Regions from separate parts of the Homo sapiens genome. Here region 2 is linked to region 1. The links come from fine-mapping of genetic effects on gene expression. A gene starts in region 1. The other region holds a variant in brackets. All regions are shown on one strand. Distances are from middle to middle.

Evidence for each region. PIP is the estimated chance that this variant, and not a neighbour inherited with it, causes the effect.
Region 2: its variant is fine-mapped to the expression of SLC5A10 in whole blood (TOPMed, PIP above 0.99).

What each region holds. Positions count from the first base shown.
Region 1 is chr17:18,947,102-18,956,194 of GRCh38, reverse strand. It overlaps SLC5A10 (solute carrier family 5 member 10), which reads right to left and starts at 4,030. Exons shown (of 15, transcript NM_001042450.4): 1 at 3,879-4,030. The coding sequence starts at 3,989. RefSeq lists enhancers at 7,720-8,333, 8,334-8,947.
Region 2 is chr17:19,286,822-19,296,186 of GRCh38, reverse strand. All of the region lies in intron 4 of EPN2 (epsin 2), which reads right to left. Among named protein-coding and RNA genes, the nearest start is that of EPN2-AS1, 15 kb to the left of the region's middle. RefSeq lists an enhancer at 5,974-6,567. The variant T/C (reference allele first, on the strand shown) is at 3,450.

The DNA.
Region 1 (9,093 bases):
GAGACAGAGTTTCGCTCTTGTTGCCCAGGATGGAGTGCAATGGCACGATCTTGGCTCACCGCAACCTCTGCCTCCCGGGTTCAAGCGATTCTCCTGCCTCAGCCTCCCTAGTAGCTGGGATTACAGGCATGTGCCACCATGCCCGGCTAATTTTGTATTTTTAGTAGAGATGGGGTTCCTCCATGTTGGTCAGGCTGGTCTTGGACTCCCGACCTCAGGTGATCTGCCCACCTCGGCCTCCCAAAGTGCTGGGATTACAGGCATGAGCCACCGCGCCCGGCCTATTTATTTTTATTTTTAAGACAGGGTCTCATTATGTTGCCCAGGCAGGTCTTGAACTCCTGGGCTCACGTGATCTCCCCATCTCAGCTTCCTGAGTAGCAGGAACCACGTGGACACCACCACACCCAGTTCAGAACTTTTGATGTGGCTCCTGCCTCTCTCCAGCTCCAACTCCCACCACTTTCTCTTTGTGTGCCGTGATCTTGCTGTACTAAAGGCAGCATAGTCTGAAGGCTCACAGTCTTGGCCAGGATGGCCATATCCAGATGTGTACGCTGTGCACTGCACAACTCCAAAGCATCTATGTTTACAGCCCATGCTTTTTCCTAACCCTTCTCATCTTTCAAGCCTATAGTGGGCATTGCCAGTTGCCTTCTTATATCTGGGGCTCTGGGGGCTGCTGGCAGTTGCTGGGGGCCACATGTACCCATTTAAGGTTCCCCGAAGGCCCCCATGCCAGAGTTGGCTTCAACTTCTTGATCTGTGTGGAGTTCTTAGTCCTCGCAACAGCTCTATGAAGCAGGTGCCATGTTACCAATGAGGAAACTGATGGTCTCAGAGATGAAAACACACCCATCTAGCAAGTGGTGCAGCCTGGATTTCAACTCAGGCTCAATCGCAGGGCTGGTCATTTCACATCAGGACACGAGGGGAGCTGGGCTTAGGACAGAGCTACACATGGATGGAGGCTGAGAGAACCAAAGTGAGGTGTAGCTGTATCCTTAATAATGCTGTGAATCCCTGGATCATACTGCACCTGAAGCCCTTTCTATTGCTGGACACAATTACATTTCCTGAATTCTTTTTTTTTTTTTTTTTTTTTTTTTGATACAGTGTTTCACTCTTTTGCCCATGCTGGAGTGCAGTGGCGTGATCTCAGCTCATTGCGACCTCCGCCTTCCGGTTTCAAGCAATTCTCCTGCCTCAGCCTCCTGAGTAGCTGGGATTACAGGCGCCTGGCACCACGCCTGGCTAATTTTTGTATTATCACAAAATAATACAAAAGTAGAGACGGGCTTTCACCATGCTGGCCAGGCTGGTCTCAAACTCCTGACCTCGTGATCCACCCGCCTAGGCCTCCCAAAGTGCTGGGATTACAGGCATGAGCCACTGCGCCCGGCCTACATTTCCTATATTCTTAGAGCTCATTTGAAAGCAGTTTTCAGTCACTTGTTAACAGATACTTTAATGAATGCAAAGGCTCAGCTCAAAGTCCCCTCCTCCAGGAACATCTCTTCCTTAAAGGCCTCCCCCCGGCCCCCGCCAGACTCTCCCAGGCCCACCATCTAAACATCTTTGCAGGGCTGCACCTGCCTGGCTTGCTCTGTCTGCTTCTCCCTGTGGGATGCATCTCCAGCATCCTCCCTGTCTGGTTCTGATCTTTTCTGGATGTGCTCACTGCTCTCTTGCCAGCCGCTCCCAGCTGGGCCAGCCTAGCCTGCTAGGAGGGACAGGGCAGAACTCCTACAGCCCTACTTCCAGGGGCACCAGCCTGCAAACAGCAAGCTGACTCACTAGGAGAGGTGGGTCATGGGCAACAAGGGCTGGTGGCCCAAGTCACTGGGCTACAAAGGGTCTGGCCTCAGGTGCCCAGAACATCTTTCTTAGACGTGCTAGCCAGGACAGCCTTGTCTCCCCTCCTCTTTCCCTCTTCAGATCTTGCCTGGCCCTTACCTCCCCTCATCCAGAAACCCTCCACTGTCTGTTCTGCCCCACGTGGGCACCTCCTCCTCTGAATTCTAGCCACCAACTGTCACAGGAATATAGCACGTTACAGTTTGCAACAGATTTTCACTTCCATTGGACCCTTGCTCCTTGGAACAGCCCTGAGATGTGGGCTGCACAGAAACCCGCATTGCGTGTTTGAGGAAACTGAAGCCCACAGAGATTAAGTGACTTAAGTACACAGAGCAGAGCCGAGACTTGAACTCGGCTTTGCCGATGGCCAGCACTGGGCTACTTGTGAGTTAATATTTAATCACATACAGGTTGAGGAGCCGTTATCCGAAATATTTGAAACCAGAAAAGTTTTGGATTTCGGACTCTTTCAGATTTGGAGATACTTACAGAATACCTGCCAGTTGAACATCCCCAACCCAAAACTCTAAAATCTGAGATGCTCCAATGAGCATTTGCTTTGAGCATCATGTTGGTGTTCAAAATGTTCCAGATTTTGGGTTTCAGATTTTTGAAATCCAACCTGTGATAATTAATTTTAATGACTGCGGCTGCTACTCTTATAATCACCACTGCTACAACTGCCACCACCACCACCACTGCTACCACTGTAGAACCAATGGCAGCAGCAAGGTCTGGTCCTGTGTGGGCCCCTTGATAGCAGACCTCACCCCAGGTAGGTGGTGTCTCCATATAACAGATCAGAACACTGAGGCCCAGGAAGCTGAGGGGACGTGACCAGTCTCCTGTTTGCCAGGCCTTCGTGCTTAGGCCAGGGGTTATGGAAGATAAGAACGGGTACTCGGCCGGGCGCGGTGGCTCACGCCTGTAATTCTAGCACTTTGGGAGGCCGAGGCGGGCAAATCATGAGGTCAGGAGTTCGAGACTAGCCTGGCCAACACGGTAAAACTCTGTCTCTACTAAAAATACAAAACATTACCTGGGTGTGGTAGTGGACGCCTGTAATCCCAGCTACTCAGGAGGCTGAGGCAGAATTGTTTGAACCCAGGAGGTGGAGGTTGCAGTGAGCCGAGATAGTGCCACTGCACTCCAGCCCAGGTGACAGTGCTAGACTCCGTCTCAGTTAAAAAAAAAAAAAAAAAAAAAGAAGGGGTACTCATTCTCCCCAGGAGACTGTCAGGGCTCAGGGATGCCAGGCTGGGGACCTCTGGGGCTTAAGAAGTGGAGCCCAACATCCCCAGGCGCTAAGCGTGGAGCAGGTGACCTGAACCAGGCTGTGTCCACCTTCCCTCAGGAAGGCCTCCACGATAGACCAGAGGAGCCCTTCCCTTGCTGCAGGGCCAGAGCCTCGGTTTCTCCATCTGCACATGAAACAGCCTGTCCCCAGGGGCCCCGCTGCCCCTGGAATCTGTGTGTGGGGTCAGATCTCTGCTCATTTCTCACTGTTATGAAGGGAGAAAGAACCGGCTTATGATCTAGGGCTAGGCCACAGGACATAAATCCCCAGGGAGCTTGTTCAAAATAAAGACCCCCAGTTCCCAGGGCCCTCCCTGCCTCCGGATTCTGATCCAGCAGCTCTGGGGTGCAGCCAGGGAATCCCGGGGAGCCTGTTGTTCAAGCAGACAGGAGTCACTGACACCATGGAGACTGGGACCAGGAGGCTGATGGGCCACACCCAAGGACTCCAGCTGGGCAGCAGCACAAAAGCCCAGTTACCTGTTAGAGAGAATTTCCTCCTCCTCACTTTGCAGATGGAGACGCCATTACCCAAAGAGAGAAACGGGCTTGGTCAAGGTCTCCAAGCAAGTCTACCCCAGGCTGGGAGGAGGACCACAAGGATCACTAGGCCACCAGCTGGGACCAATGCTGACACCACAGGGACATGCTGGACCCCGGTTCCCACCCCAAGCACCAACCCTGAGAGCCCACTTGGCCAACACCACCACAGGTCCCCTTACCCATATGCCCACGGCCACATTCAGAGCAAAATACACAGTGATGACGATGATGTCAGCCACGCTCAGCTGCGTCCCGGGAGTGTGGAGGTCGCTGGTGGAGTTGGCGGCCATGGCTGTCCTGCCGCAGGCACTAGGTATGAGCCCGAGGGACTGAGGGGCAAACCAGGTCAGAAAGGGTTTCCTGGCAGGGAGCTCATTGATCATTAAACCAAGCGGACAGTGGCATCTCCAGCCCATGATGTGGCTGCATGCAGGGCAGCTGCCTCACCATGCAGTTCAGCTTCCTCACCCCATGGTGGGGTGCAGATCCCAGAGCGCAGGAGTCAGGGAGCCTGGGAGAAGCAAGTGGGAGGAGGAAAGGAAGGAGCCTCCTTGAACTCGGAGGGGGCTTGGGGAAAATGAACCGCATTTAGTGGACCCGGAGGCAGCCCAAATAGTCCCAGAAAGGCTGGGTTGCTTAATGGGTGGCTTCACCTATATCTAATTTGTATAAGAAGCATAGAGCGTAGGGACAACCGCCTCACCTCTGAAGATACTGCCGTGGCGGGCAGCCATGTCCTCCCTTGGCCATCGGGCTGTGAGTGGACTGAGCAGGGCTTGGGAGGGGGACACCTGCATTATGGCTCACGTCCAGCCAACACAGCCCAGGCTCAGAGGCAGCCCCATGTCGGACAATAAAGTCCTGCTTCCAGCGTTTCTGCTTTCTTTTTCTAGACCCGTGAAACAGTCCCAGGCCCCTCAACTTGACCATGCATTCGGCCCCCACCCCGGGCAATGTCTGCCTGGGACCACAGAGGGACCCAATATCTGTCACACACCAAGGACCATGCGTGGCTGTTCTGCACATGATCCCATTTCACGGACCATGCGTGGCTGTTCCGCACATGATCCCATTTCACGCTCACAGCAGCCACGCAGAGTAGGCAATGTCTCATCCTAGTCAAGGAAATGGCCATCCGCCATTACGCAGCCATTGAAGGCGCAGAGTAGGATTCAGTGCAGATGTGGCCCCACCGTCTCCACCGCAGTGACAGTGACGAGTTCCATCTGGATTCCATCAGAGTGGGACGCTCGCTCACTAATTCTATCAGTGTACACAGCAGGGCTGGCCGGCAGTCTCACGCCTCTGCTCAGTGACATGACTCGTGACTTTGCAAAGCATTTGCAGTTTAACCAGACATGCAGCACTTCCAGAAGTGTTAATGAGTGAGCGGCTGCCACCAGGAACACGCTGGCCTGCAAACCCAGCCAGCCTGTTACTCAATAACCCTGAGGTGCGGGTAAAAATTAATCCCCTCGGCCAGGAGCAGTGGCTCATGCCCTTGGGAGGCTCATGCCTTTGGGAGGCCAAGGCGGGTGGATCACCTGAGATCAGGAGTTTGAGACCAGCCTGGCCAACATGGCAAAACCTCGTCTCTACTAAAAATACAAAAATTAGCCAGACATGGTGGTACGCACCTGTAATCCCAGCTACTTGGGAGGCTGAGGCAGGAGAATTGCTTGAACTCAGGAGGTAGAGATTGCAGTGAGCCAAGACTGCGCCATTGCAGTCCAGCCTGGGCAACAGAGGGAGACTCCATCTCACAAAACAAACAACAACAACAACAAAAAACAATTAATAGTCCTCACATACAGGACTAGGCAGAAGAAGGAAGGGAAAAAGGAAGTCACTGCTGAGAGAACCCTCAGGCAGGCTCAACTGCCTGCCGTCTCCCCTTGCCTCTGGCCAGCGAGCCTCAGATGGTGTTTACTTCCCAAGCCATTGCTTGCAATGTGTTTTAAAACAAAAGGCTGCTTTGCACTGATCAGGAGGACCCAGCTGGGAGGATCCAGACTTACCAAAACTATCCCATTAATAGAGTAGTTGTACCAGCAGCATTGGCTCTGAGACCGTTGGCTAGGTCTTAGAAGGAAATAAACCACTTAGTGATAACTGCCGCCTTTGGATCAAAAGTCCTTGGGATTTTTGCCACTGAGTTTAAATGGAAAAAAATGAAAAAAGAGAAAAAAAATCCTAGGGAAAGAAAGCACCAGTAAAGGTGCTCTTAAGGGGCTGAGACTGATTTGCTGGTTCTGTCCTGAAGGACGGGGACAGGAGGAGGGTGGCAGCGGAGGACATGGAGGGAGAAGTACCAAACAAGCCCAGCCATGTCTGCGGGAGAAGAAACGCCACCCGAAGCCCAGTCACACCCACATTCCCACCCCACCTGACCCAACGGGATCACCTATTCACTCACCCCAAGAAACATGAAGACCGTCCTAGCTGAGAAGTCATCCGTACCACACCCCTTGAAGCCTCTTCCATCCCCGGAAGAAGTCCCTCAGACTCATGAGAACCAGGAACGGGATGTGGAGGGGTCAGCAGAGCCTAAGCAGGACGACTGGAGCCATTTGTATCTTGTGTGTGGGGCATCTATGAGCTTATGAGTTTCTTTCTTAAGTGCTTCAGAATTGTGACCAAGGCATGACCAACCATGTGATGAGCTGGGCAGCACTGGAACGGACTGCACATGAGTGAAGGGAGCCCATGAAGGGAGCCCACGGTCATCTGCGGCAGCTTGCAGCGAATCCCTCCAGGGCCTCTCTCTGCCTGCCTGCCAAGTCTAGTTCCAGCTTATCTGTTGCTCCTGCTTTTGCAATAAGCACAAGACTGATCATTTATTCCTGCTAAGTATTGTCTGCTTGTCTGTCCTGATGGAGAAACTCCCCAAGAGTCCTAAGCTACAAGGGCAAGCGTGCTCAGGGCAGCCAAAAAGTTTAGAAATTTCCTACATAACCACCCAGAGAAGGTGGTGAGTGAATTATGAGACCTCCAAACCATGGAACACCATGACCATTAAAAAGATGAGGTGGCTTTATATAATGGCATGGAAGGATGATACACTTGTAAGTGAAAAAAGCAAGCTAGAGAATATAGACCCATATCCATGTTTATCCTCTCATTATATATAATGTAAGGGGCTGAACAGCCACAGTGTTTTGAAGGACACACACCAAACTGCTAAGGAGAGGAGAAAGGAGAATTATCACTTTATTTTATTTTATTTTTTTGAGACAATGTCTGGCTCTATTGCCCAGGCTGGAGTGCAGTGGTACAATCACAGCTCACTGCAGTCTCAGCCTCCTGGGCTCAAGGGATCCTCCTACCTCAGCCTCCTGAGTAGCTGGGACTACAGGCATGCACCACCATAGCCAGCAAAGTTTTGTGGGTATTTTTTTATAGCGACAGGGTCTCACCATGTTGCCCAGGCTGTTGTCAAACTCCTGGGCTCAAGCAGCCTTCCAAAGTGCTGGGATTACAGGCGTAAGCCACTGTGTCCGGCCCAAGTTATCACTTTTTATGCTTTGGTGTGGGCTGGGCTTTTTTGTAAGACCTCTGGCCTTGGCCTTGGTTTAGACCAGCAAGCTGGCCCCTAGGGGTGCCCCCGACCCTGCCTGGGCTCCCCTCACCAGCCAGGTCAAGCAGTTTCCTTCCACTGATACAGAGGCTCAAGGAGAGTGTTGCCAGGTGCTTTGTGAAGGGTGGTGGGTCCCAGACAACCATTTCCTGAATGCTCACCTGCCCACCTGTGCTGGGTACCTGCATCTGCATTGGTTGGTCACCTCCCCGCAGCCCTTCCAGGCGGCCTTCACTTCCCTCCACTCCGCTGCTCTGCTGGCCGAGCGCTGCATTCTCTCATCCAGGTACCCTCTTGACCACTCCCCTTGAGGGCTTCAGGTTTGAGAGTCCACCCTCCATCACTCCCCACCCAAACCCACCCTCCCCAAAGCTCAGTGGGCTCGGCTGGGACCCCAGGGGCCAGCCCACAGCTTCATCTTTACCATGGTTACAGACACCTACCGAGCAGTCACCATGTGCCCACGCATCGTCCACCCTCAACTCTCCCAACTCCTTGAGGGATGGAAAATCCGAGGCACAGAGAAACAGAGGAACTTGCTCAAAGTCACACAGCAACTAAGAGACAGAGGAGGACTTTGAACCCAAATTGTCCAGCTCTCGAATCTGCCCTTTTAACATTAAACTCCACCACCCAGCATGGCTCGTGACAGGTATTCAGTGGGAAGGAATGACCCCCCTCCTCCCCTGGGGTCCCAGCCAAGCCCACTGAGCTTTGGGTGAGGTTGGGTTTGTGCAGGGAGTGATGGAGGTTGGACTGTTAAGCCTCAGGCCCTCGAAGGGAGTGGTTGAGTGGGCACCTGGATGGGAGGACCCTGAGCTCAGCCGGCAGAGCAGCAGAGTGGAAGGGAAGTGAAGGCAGCCGGGAAGGGCTGCTGGGAGGTAATGGAACCGATGCAGACCAGGCGTCCAGCACAGGTGGGGAGGGACTGATCCCTGGCCTCCAGTCTTATCCTTTTGAATCTACTCACCACGCACAGTATGTCAGAACACCCTAAAAGCCTAACCCTGGACATGACACTCCTGTTTCAAACTTACCTTCAACAGCCTTTACTGCTCCAGAGATCAAGTGCAAGGCCTTGGGCTCGGCACCAGGGGCCCTGGAACCTGGCCCTCCCCCGACCCAGCTCCATCTTCTGCTGCCCTCAGTTCCTCCCTGGGTGTCCTCAAGTCCCCCTACCTCTCAGTCTGCTTGGTGAACTGCTACTCATCCTTCAAGACGGTACTGAGACATCACTGCCTCTCTGAAGCCTTCCTTGGCTCCTCCCTCTTCTGTGCATCCCTGGCCCTGCTGGGCTAGTGGCTGTGCTGCCACACGACACAGTAGTATCTGCCCCCACCCACCCGTCACCCCGCTCCTCCAGTGACCGGCACAGGGTCTACCCTTGCCACATCACTGCAAGAGGTCCAAGGAGCCCAGGCAACTGAGGAATCTTCAGATGCTGAGGCCCCTGAGGCCCTTCAATCCCAGAAACCTATTCTTTTTTTATCATTATTGAGGGAGAATGCATTTAACATAAAATCCATCATTTTAACCCCTTAAAGTACACCAGTCTGTGGTTTCCACCACCTTCACAACACTATGCACCCATCGCCATTACCTATTCCAACATTTTTCTTTTCTTTTTTTTTTTTCTGAGACAGAGTTTTGCTTTGTCACCCAGACTGGAGTGCAGTGGCGCAATCTCGACTCACTGCAACATTTGCCTCCTGGGTTCAAGCAATTCTCCTGCCTCAGCCTCCCGAGTAGCTGGAATAACAGGCACGCACCACCACGCCTGGCTAATTTTTGTATTTTTAATAGAGACGGGGTTTCAC
Region 2 (9,365 bases), 340 kb before region 1:
GGGGTGAGACTCTGTCCCAGTTTAAAAAAAAAAAAATAGAATGAATGACTTCATGCCCTCACTGTACTTGGAGAAGCAGGTCGCAGAGTGGACTTGCGGGAGGAGCTCTGGTTATCCCACTGCAAGCTGGACTAAGCTGGACTAAGCTTTCCATTAGCAGTCAGCAGGAGGAGACTAATTTGATGTGTAATATCAATTTCCAAGCTGCTCCAAGTTGGAGTGTTGCCTAGCTGCCTGTAACTCTGTAAAAAGACACTGCTACGGGCCATGAGTTGAGGGGAGAGGGGAGGAAGAGCCCTTCAACTGATTAAAGCCTGACAGGGAACCAGCAGCCCCCAGCACACTGCTGTCAGTGCCACCGCGGCACCTGGGGCCCTCCCAGAGATTCTAATTTGAGAGGTGTGGGAGAGGTGTGGCCCAGGATTTGGGACATTTTGGGAGATTTAAAAGCTTGAGAGCTAGTGATTTAGGGAAAAAAGGCAACTGTCAAAATGAGGAACTGCCTTGTATCACTAAACAAAAACAACAACTATGAATCATACTGTTGCTAAACTCAACCTTAAAGCATCGAGAAACCACACAAATATATAAGGCATTCCTATATTTCTGGAATTGACTTCAAATGTATTTTTTCTTTTCTTTTCTTTTTTTTCTGAGAGGGAGTTTCACTCTTGTCACCCAGGCTGGAGTCTAATGGCACGATCTCGGCTCACTGCAACCTCCACTTCCTGGGTTAAAGTGATTCTCCTGCCTCAGCCTCCCAGGTAGCTGGGACTACAGGCATGCACCACTACACCTGGCTATTTTGCGCGCACGCGCGTGTGTGTGTGTGTGTGTGTGTGTGTATTTTTAATAGAGATGGGGTTTCACTGCGTTGGCAAGGCTAGTCTCGAACTCCTGCCCTCAGGTGAGGAGAGAGGAGAAGAGAGGCTTATTTAGCACTCATGCATGAAGTATGTTCTGAGCACCTTTCCTGGTTCAGGTGTTGTGCTAAAGACACTAGGGATACAGCACGGGGCATGAACGGGGCTCCTGCTCTAACAGCTTGTTTTAGTGCAGGGAGACAAAACAAAGCAAATAAGAGAATTTCAGGTAGTGAAAAAGACTCTGAAGATAGTAAAAAAGGATATGATACAGAGAGAGATTTAACTTATATGGCCTACTTCCCATGGGAAGACAAATCTATCTGCATGCCTTCCCTCCTGTTTCTAGTCATATAATTTTTTTTTAATGCCTCCTGGAAGTTGTCTATTTGAAACTAGCAACTGCTGTACTGAGCATCCATGAATAAAGACACCGTCAGCAGCTGTGACTATGCTAGCCAATCTGACTTAAAACATCTGACAGGGAACCAGCAGCCCCCAGTACAATGCTGTCAGTGCCACCGCAGTACCTGGGGCCCTCCCAGAGATTCTCATTTGAGAAGTGTGGCAAAGGTGTGGCCCAGGATTTGGGACATTTTGGGAGATTTAAAAGCTTGAGAGCTAGTGATTTAGGGAAAAAAGAAAAGGCAACTGTCAAAATGAGGAACTGCCTTGTATCACTAAACAAAAACTAACAACTATGTATCATACTGTTGCTAAACTCAACCTTAAAGCATCGAGAAACCTTCTACACTTATTGACAGTTTATAAACAATAGTTTGTTTACCTATACTACAAAGGATCCTTAAAAAACAGGTAAATATTGTATTGATCCATTTTCTATGGCACACGCCAATGTCAATCATTTAATCAATAACCCAATCCCCAATATTTTTTTTCTTTTGAGAAAGGGTCTCGCTTTGTCACCCAGGCTAGAATGCAGTGGCACAATCTTGGTTCACTGCAGCCTGGACTTCCTGAGCTCAGGCGATTCCTCCCACCTCAGCCCCACAAAGTAGCTGGGACTACAGGTGCACACCACCATGCCTGGTTAATTTTTTTTTTTTTTGTAGCGATGGGGTTTTGTTGTGTTGTCCAGGCTGGTCTCAAACTCCTAAGCTCAAGCAATTCACCTGCTTCAGCCTCTCGAAGTGCTAGGATTACAGGCATGGGCCACTGCAGCCGGCCTCCCAATCAGCAATTTTGATAGCACTGTTTCTTTTTTTTTTTTTTAAAGACAGAGTCTTGCTCTGTTGCCCAGGCTGGAGTACAGTGGTGCGATCTCAGCTCACTGCAACCTCTGCCTCCCAAGCTTCAAGCAATCTCCTGCCTCAGCTTCCTGGGTAGCTGGGATTACAAGCATCCACCACCACACCCGACTAATTTTTTGTATTTTTGGTAGAGACAGGGGTTTCACCATGTTGGTCAGGCTGGTCTCAAACTCCTGACCTCAAGTGATCCACCAGCCTCGGCCTCCCAAAGTGCTGGGATTATAGGCATGAGCCACCGCGCCCAGCCTTGATAGCACTGTTTCAATTCTGAGAACAATCCCATATTCTGACAATCAGAGGAGCTCCTTAAGATCTGGGGCCCAATTAAATAATGGTTTAATTAGGTATTCCTGGCTGAGTGTGGTGGCTTGTGCCTGCATGCCTGTAATCTCAACACTTTGAGAGGCCGAGGCCAGAGGATAGCTTGAGCCCAGGAGTTCCAGATCAGCCTGGGCAACGTGGCAAAACCCCACCTCTACAAAATACAGAAAGTAAAAAAAAAAAAAAAAAAAAAAAAAGCTGGGTATGGTGGCATGCACCTGTAGTCTCAGCAACCCAGGAGGTTAAGGTGAGAGCATCACTTGAGCCCAGGGAGGTAGAGGCTGCAGTGAGCCACAATCACACCACTGCACTCCAGCCTGAGCAACAGAGCAAGACCCTGTCTTTTTTTTTTTTTTTTTTTGAGATGGAGTTTCGCTCTTGTCACCCAGGCTGGAGTGATCTCGGCTCACTGCAACCTCTGCCTCTCAGGTTCAAGCGAATCTCCCACCTCTGCCTCCTGAGTAGCTGGGATTACAGGTGCCCACCACCATGACCGGCTAATTTTTTTGTATTTTTAGTAGAGATGGGTTTCACCATATTGGCCAAGCTGGCCTCGAACTCCTGGCCTCAGGTGATCTGCCCGTCTCAACCTCCCAACATGCTGGGATTACAGGCGTGAGCCACCCTGCCCAGCCAATCCCATCTTAAAAAGAAAAAAATAATAATACAGAAAAAAGCATTATATAAGATGAACCATATAATTTTAAAATTGTAATAGGTGTACACCGTATTTGCCTATTTTGCAGAAAAAATTTTAAAGCAATTTCAAAAACTGTCAAGTAGAGGAAAGAGAACCAGAGTTCTTCAAAATCCCAGTTCTAATTCTAGCTTCTTCACTTACAAATGAGAGGATTTAGGGGAGCAAGTTCATGTCAGTTTCCTTATTAACCTCATCTGCCCTGCCTACCTTCTAGACAACTGTGAGAAGCAAATGGACTCCTCCTAAGAGAAGGCAAAGGCCCAGGAGAGGTGATCCAGATGCCTTCTGGTTGTG[T/C]TGGGCAACTGTCTGACTTTAGCAGCCCAGCCATTCACGAATCACATTCAAATCCCACTTAAAACCCAAGCCCTTGTGGCAAGAACGAGCATCTTTTATACCTGATACTTGGATAGATGTGTCAATAAATCTGCTGCCTCTGAGGGTGTGTTCATGTTACTGATCAGCTTCCTCCATGACTCAATTTTCCACCTGAAGAGATTAACTCTCTCTAGAGTAAGCTAACGCTGACAGCCCTGCTGTGCCTCTGCCCCTGGGACTGACTGCCAGCCGAAGATGCAGGGCTCCCCTGACTTACAGAACACATTTGTTCCACCAAAACAAGATGCCAAATGAGTCTCATCTCCCACCAAATTCCTGGTCCATCCCCAAAACCCAATGGAAGGGCCCTGAGGGCTAGACACACTCCCCACAGGTAGCTATCCCTGGCCTGACACTAGGAAATACCTGGCTGGTGGCCACCAACCACCTCTCAGCCCCGGGCGGGCCCTGCTGCCCTCCTAGTTCCTGGCAGCATCACTCAGCCCTGCACCTTGGAGCTCTGTCACCTCCCACACTCTCAGGAGACCTCAGCTGGCCCAGGATCCTTCCAAGGTCCACCTCAGAAGCACTTCTGACACGCTGGCTGGGTTTGGCTTTTCTTTTTTTTAACAATATATTTTCCCACATCTTTGAGTTTTCAAAAGTAGACCCATGTAGGACTCCCTTTTCAGATGCCTCCTTCTTACCAAAACACTCTCCTTTGTGTGTACATGTCTGGTGTAAGTGCACATGTGTCTGTGTGTGCGCATGCTTCAGCTCTATTCCCAGAGCTGGGCAAGCAGGGCTGAGGCCATGACAACTCTGGTTCACCCCTGAGGTTCCCTTGTTATGAAGACAGCTTCCGTAGAGAGTCCTCTGAGGGCCCACTGTGCCTGGGGACTTCCTGGACATACTCATGAAACAGCGCACAAGAAAGCTTTCAAATTCTACCAAGTCCCCATTGGGTTTAAGAATGAGGCCGGGCGCGATGGCTCACGCCTGTAATTCCAGCACTTTGGGAGGCCGAGGCGGGTGGATCATGAGGTCAGGAGATCAAGACCATCATGGCTAACACGGTGAAACCCCATCTCTACAAAAAACACAAAAAAAAATTAGCCGGGCGCAGTGGCGGGCGCCTGTAGTCCCAGCTACTCAGGAGGCTGAGGCAGGAGAACGGCGTGAACCCAGGAAGCGGAGCTTGCAGTGAGCCAAGATAGCGCCACTGCAGTCCAGCCTGGGCGAAAGAGCGAGACTCCGTCTCAAAAAAAAAAAAAAAAAAAAAAAAAAAATGAATGGCTGATAACCGTGGATAGCCTTGCCATTCCACTCCCTGAGAAATCCTGTTTCCCCTTAGATTCTTGCCAGGCCACTCGAGAGTGGAGGCATGGCCCGAAGGCCTGGCGGACAGCAGCAGCAGCTGTTGGGGTGATGCCGCAGGACAATGATCACGGCCACTGCTCCATGAAGTCCTGGGCAGGCTGCTTGACACTCTGGCCTTCCCAGCTGCACAGTATCAAACCAAATTTGGATCCATCTCTAGCCACTGTATACAATCCTGGCTTTTCTTTCTCACCTCTGTTTTCCTTTTGCCCCAATTTCTTCTGGTATCTATTGAATCCTGTGGCATTGCATGTGTTTTATAAGCCAACTCAAATCCTTTCTAGTAATCACTTGGCAAACCCTTGCCGGGTGGGGTGTGAGAGGAGCAGCCTCAGCACAAGGGGCTCTCAGCCCAGAGGACCAGTAGCCCAAAGGAATCCCTGTCATTTCTCTGGGAGCAGACTTGAAGCATACTACAGCCAGGGCCAGCGGCGTCAGCAAGACAGGAGGGGCCATGAGGAGAGCCAAGAAGACCCGGCTGCAGGCAGCAGCCCCCACCTGGTACAAAGCCCACCACTGCTTACTTTGGTTTCAGAACCCAAGTTGGTTCTGATTCACTTGAGTGAATCAGAAAGCAATGAAGATTTCTATTCTGCCTGCCTTCCTTTTTCTTTTTTTTTCTTTTTTTTTTTTTTTGAGAACGGGAATGCTGGGCAGTTAAACTCCCACCAAGAACTGCAAGGTACCAGGCAACTCGGGACTTGCTCAGGGAGCATCAAGACAGCTGTAGCTCTGGCTCCGCAGACTCAGCAAGGGGGCTGAGAACACCAAGCTGAGCATTCCTTCCTTCCCTTACCCACCCTCAACAGAGGCCAGCCAAGGCAGAAGATCTGGCCCCTGGCCTTAGAGTGTCCTTGGTGAGAGGACAGCAGCAATCTTTCTTTCCATTCCTTGACTCAGGAATGCTTTTCTCATCCCCATCTGCCTCCCTTTGATGTAGGTTCCGTCTACCCCAAGAACTTCTGTAATTTCTCCAAAGCCTTTTGACACTGTGGCCAGTTCTGCAGAACAGAACAGGAAATGGTGGAAAGAGCCCGGGGGGCGGGTAACATGTGGGCTGCTCACCCCCACCAGGTTGCAGTTCAGGCCAGCTGCCATCTCTGCGTGATCTTAGGCAAATCCCTCAACCCCCTGGGCCTGAGGGTCCTCCTTTGGGCTGCGCAGCTTCTGCCCACACACAACTGTCCTGAGCACTGACTACATGCCAGGATCATGTGAGGGCAGCCAACACGGGTAAGCCTTAAGAGGAGCCAGCCTTGGGAGGGCAGCTGGTGTGTCTGAAATTACAAGACCACCAAGTAAACATGAGTGCCAGAGGCTAGGCATGGTGGCTCACGCCTGTAATCCCAGCACTTTGGGAGGCCGAGCTGGGCAGATCACTTGAGGTCAGGGGTTCAAGACCTGGCCAACATGATGAAACCTCATCTCTACTAAAAATACAAAAATTAGCCAGGCATGGTGACATGTGCCTGTAATCCCAGCTACTCAGATGGCTGAGGAAGAATAGCTTGAAGCCAGCTAGGCGGAGGTTGCAGTGAGCCCAGATCACCCCACTACACTCTAGCCTGGCCAACAGAGTGAGACTCCATCTCAAAAAAAAAAAAAAAAAAAACCATGAGCGCCAGGTGAGGCCGAACAGCTGACGGCTATAAGCACTGTCCATGCCCTGACAACTTCCAAAGTGTGCCTGCAGCCCAGAATTCTCCCCCCAACTCCAGACTTCTCAGACCTTCTTGACACCTCCACTTGCGTGTCTAGGAGACACTTCGATGTGTCCTGAACTCAACCCCTCCACTAACCTACTGCACCCACAGCCGCCCTCATCTCAGATGATGGCAGCTCTGCCTCCAGCTGCTCTGCTCCCAGCCCTCAGAGTCATCCTCAGCTCCCCTCTCACTCTGCCCAGTCCTCTAGCAAGGTCTGTCAGGTCATCTTTAAAACATACCCAGAATCGTCCAGGTGCGGTGGCTCACACCTGTAATCCCAGCACTTTGGGAGGCCAAGGTGGGCGGATCACGGGGTCAGGAGATCAAGACCATCCTGGCTAACATGATGAAACCTCATCTCTACTAAAAATACAAAAAATTAGCCGGGCGTGGTGGCGGGCGCCTGTAGTCCCAGCTACTTGGGAGGCTGAGGCAGGAGAATGGCGTGAACCCGGGAGGCAGAGCTTGCAGTAAGCGGAGATCGTGCCACTGCACTCCAGCCTGGGTGACAGTGCAAGATTCTGTCTCAAAAAAAAAAAAAAAAAAAAAAAAAAAACATACCCAGAACCTGGCTACTGCCCAGATTTCTGCAGCCCTGCCAGGTCCAGACCCCCACCATCTCCCACCTGGATGGGGACAGTGGCCTCCTGACCTGGCTCCCTGCTCCCACCTTGCCCATACACACCCCAAGGGATCCTCCTAACCCTCATCTTCCCCCATCTCACTGTGAGTGAAAGTCAAAGAAATTTCTGACATAAACCCAGAAGGCCCAGCACCGGGCCACTGAGTGCATGGTCTGCAAGGTAAGCACAGTGAAAGTGTTTCAAAAGCTCCTAGCAATGACATCGGCACAACATCTAAACATGGACACAAAAGGACCCGTCTGGATGGACTAGGAATTCAAGGAATGCTCCCAACCAGACAGAGTTGAGAGGCCCTGCCCCACACCTCCTCCAGGCCCACCTCTGCCACGCTCCACCCCCACATACTGGCCATGCTCCGTCACTCATCGCCACCTCACTGGCTGCCTTTTCTCAAACACCCTGAGCACACTCCCACCTCAGGGCCTTTGCACAGCTGCCCTTCTGCCTGGAAGGCTCTTTCCAACCTCCACAAGGCTCACCCTCACACTCCTTCAATCCTTGATCCATTCATACTGCAAGCCACCCTCTCTTACCTCCCCAAAGACACTCAAGCAAGACTGTTTTTGTTTTGCTGTTTTCCAGAGCGCTCATTACATAACATGCTGAATAATTTATATTGTGTTTTTCTTTCCCATTACCATATAAGCTCCACGAGGGCAAGGGGCTCTGTTCTGTGCTCAGTGCCTGGTGCCCCATGGGAACTCAATAAATACAGAGCAGAGGGCAGGTAGACCAGGCTTCAAAAGGAAAGCCCAGAGCTGTGCCTGCAGGCAGACGTCAGCAGGCCTGGGAAGGTCTGGAATGCTTCCGCCGGAACAGGAGGACCCCCAGACTGAGGGCAGGGGACACAGCTGGTGGAAGCAACTGAGGTCTGCAACGTCAAAGGCTCTGGGATGGCCCTGCAGGGCCTGGCATCTAAAGGGGCTGAGACTCAGGACCAGGGCATCCTTTATGAAGATGGAGGGTAGGTGAGACTGGGAGATAATGACAGCAGGAAATTGGTCAGAAGGCTGGCACTGAATTGAGGCCATGGAACAAGATGGACAATTCAAGAGACTTCCAAGGTCAGATCTACAGATCTATGTGGGAGGTGAGAGAGAGGGAGGGGCACAGGGAGGATGAGATGACATATGGCACATGAAAGAAAGCTCTCCTCAGACATCCTCATGATTATCGCCAGTCACACAAGAGGCCTTCCCGGCTGTGGCTGCTCTCATGTGAAGAGGGCTTCTGAGCAGTCTGCCTCCTCTGCCTCTGTGGGGTCTGCAGTCCCAAATGCACCCCTCACAAACATCTCTCCTGAATCACAGCCTGCATCTCACCTGACAGTTTTCTGAATGGCCGGCATCATTCTGACCTTCCCACTGCTGATTTCCAAGAAGGTGTGCTCCAAACAAATCCACTGGTGTGCATAGATTAAGCACTTACCTTATACTCAACCCTTTGTGAAGCATCAAGAAAGAACAGAGAAGAAACATGGCCAGAATCTTTGCCCTGGACTCCGACAGCCCCCTACCCTCTGACGGGGAGGGAGTGAGATGTGGAGAGGATGCCACACCCAACAGTTAAAGGATGAAATGCAATCCATATAACACTTGTTTGCTCAAAACTCATCTGGGGCATGAGAAATCTTCAAAGAAAAAAATACTCATTTTTATCTTCAACTCCTATCAGGGCTGAAGGACAACATAAATCCACACGGGGTGGATACCTTAAGCAACTTGCCAGGTTGGGGGAACAGGGGGCAGGTGGTGGGAGCGATATCCAAGCAGAGAGAACGGAATGGCACAGGCGAAGGTGCAGAGGCAGGGCCAAAGACAGCCGCAGTGGGGGAAGATGGCCAGCCTGCAGGCCTGCCAGGCTGTATTTAACATGCAAACGTCCCAGGAAAGCCAGTTTGCCAGCGGGAGAGCTAGAGGGCCAGGGTAACACAAAATTGGCCACCAAGGCTCAAAACAGACCTTGTCAGTTACCAAATGGGTAGAACATGGGAAAAACAAAAAGGGAACTCCATGGAGAGTTCCGCGGGACCTGCTGAGAACAGCAGCCTCTGACTATCTGGGGGGGTGAAATGGGCATGTAACTCCAATGCCTCTGGGTGACCCTTTAACGAATGCTTTTATCATTTACATTCTTTACAGTGCAGAGCTGGCCTTCCTTACGTT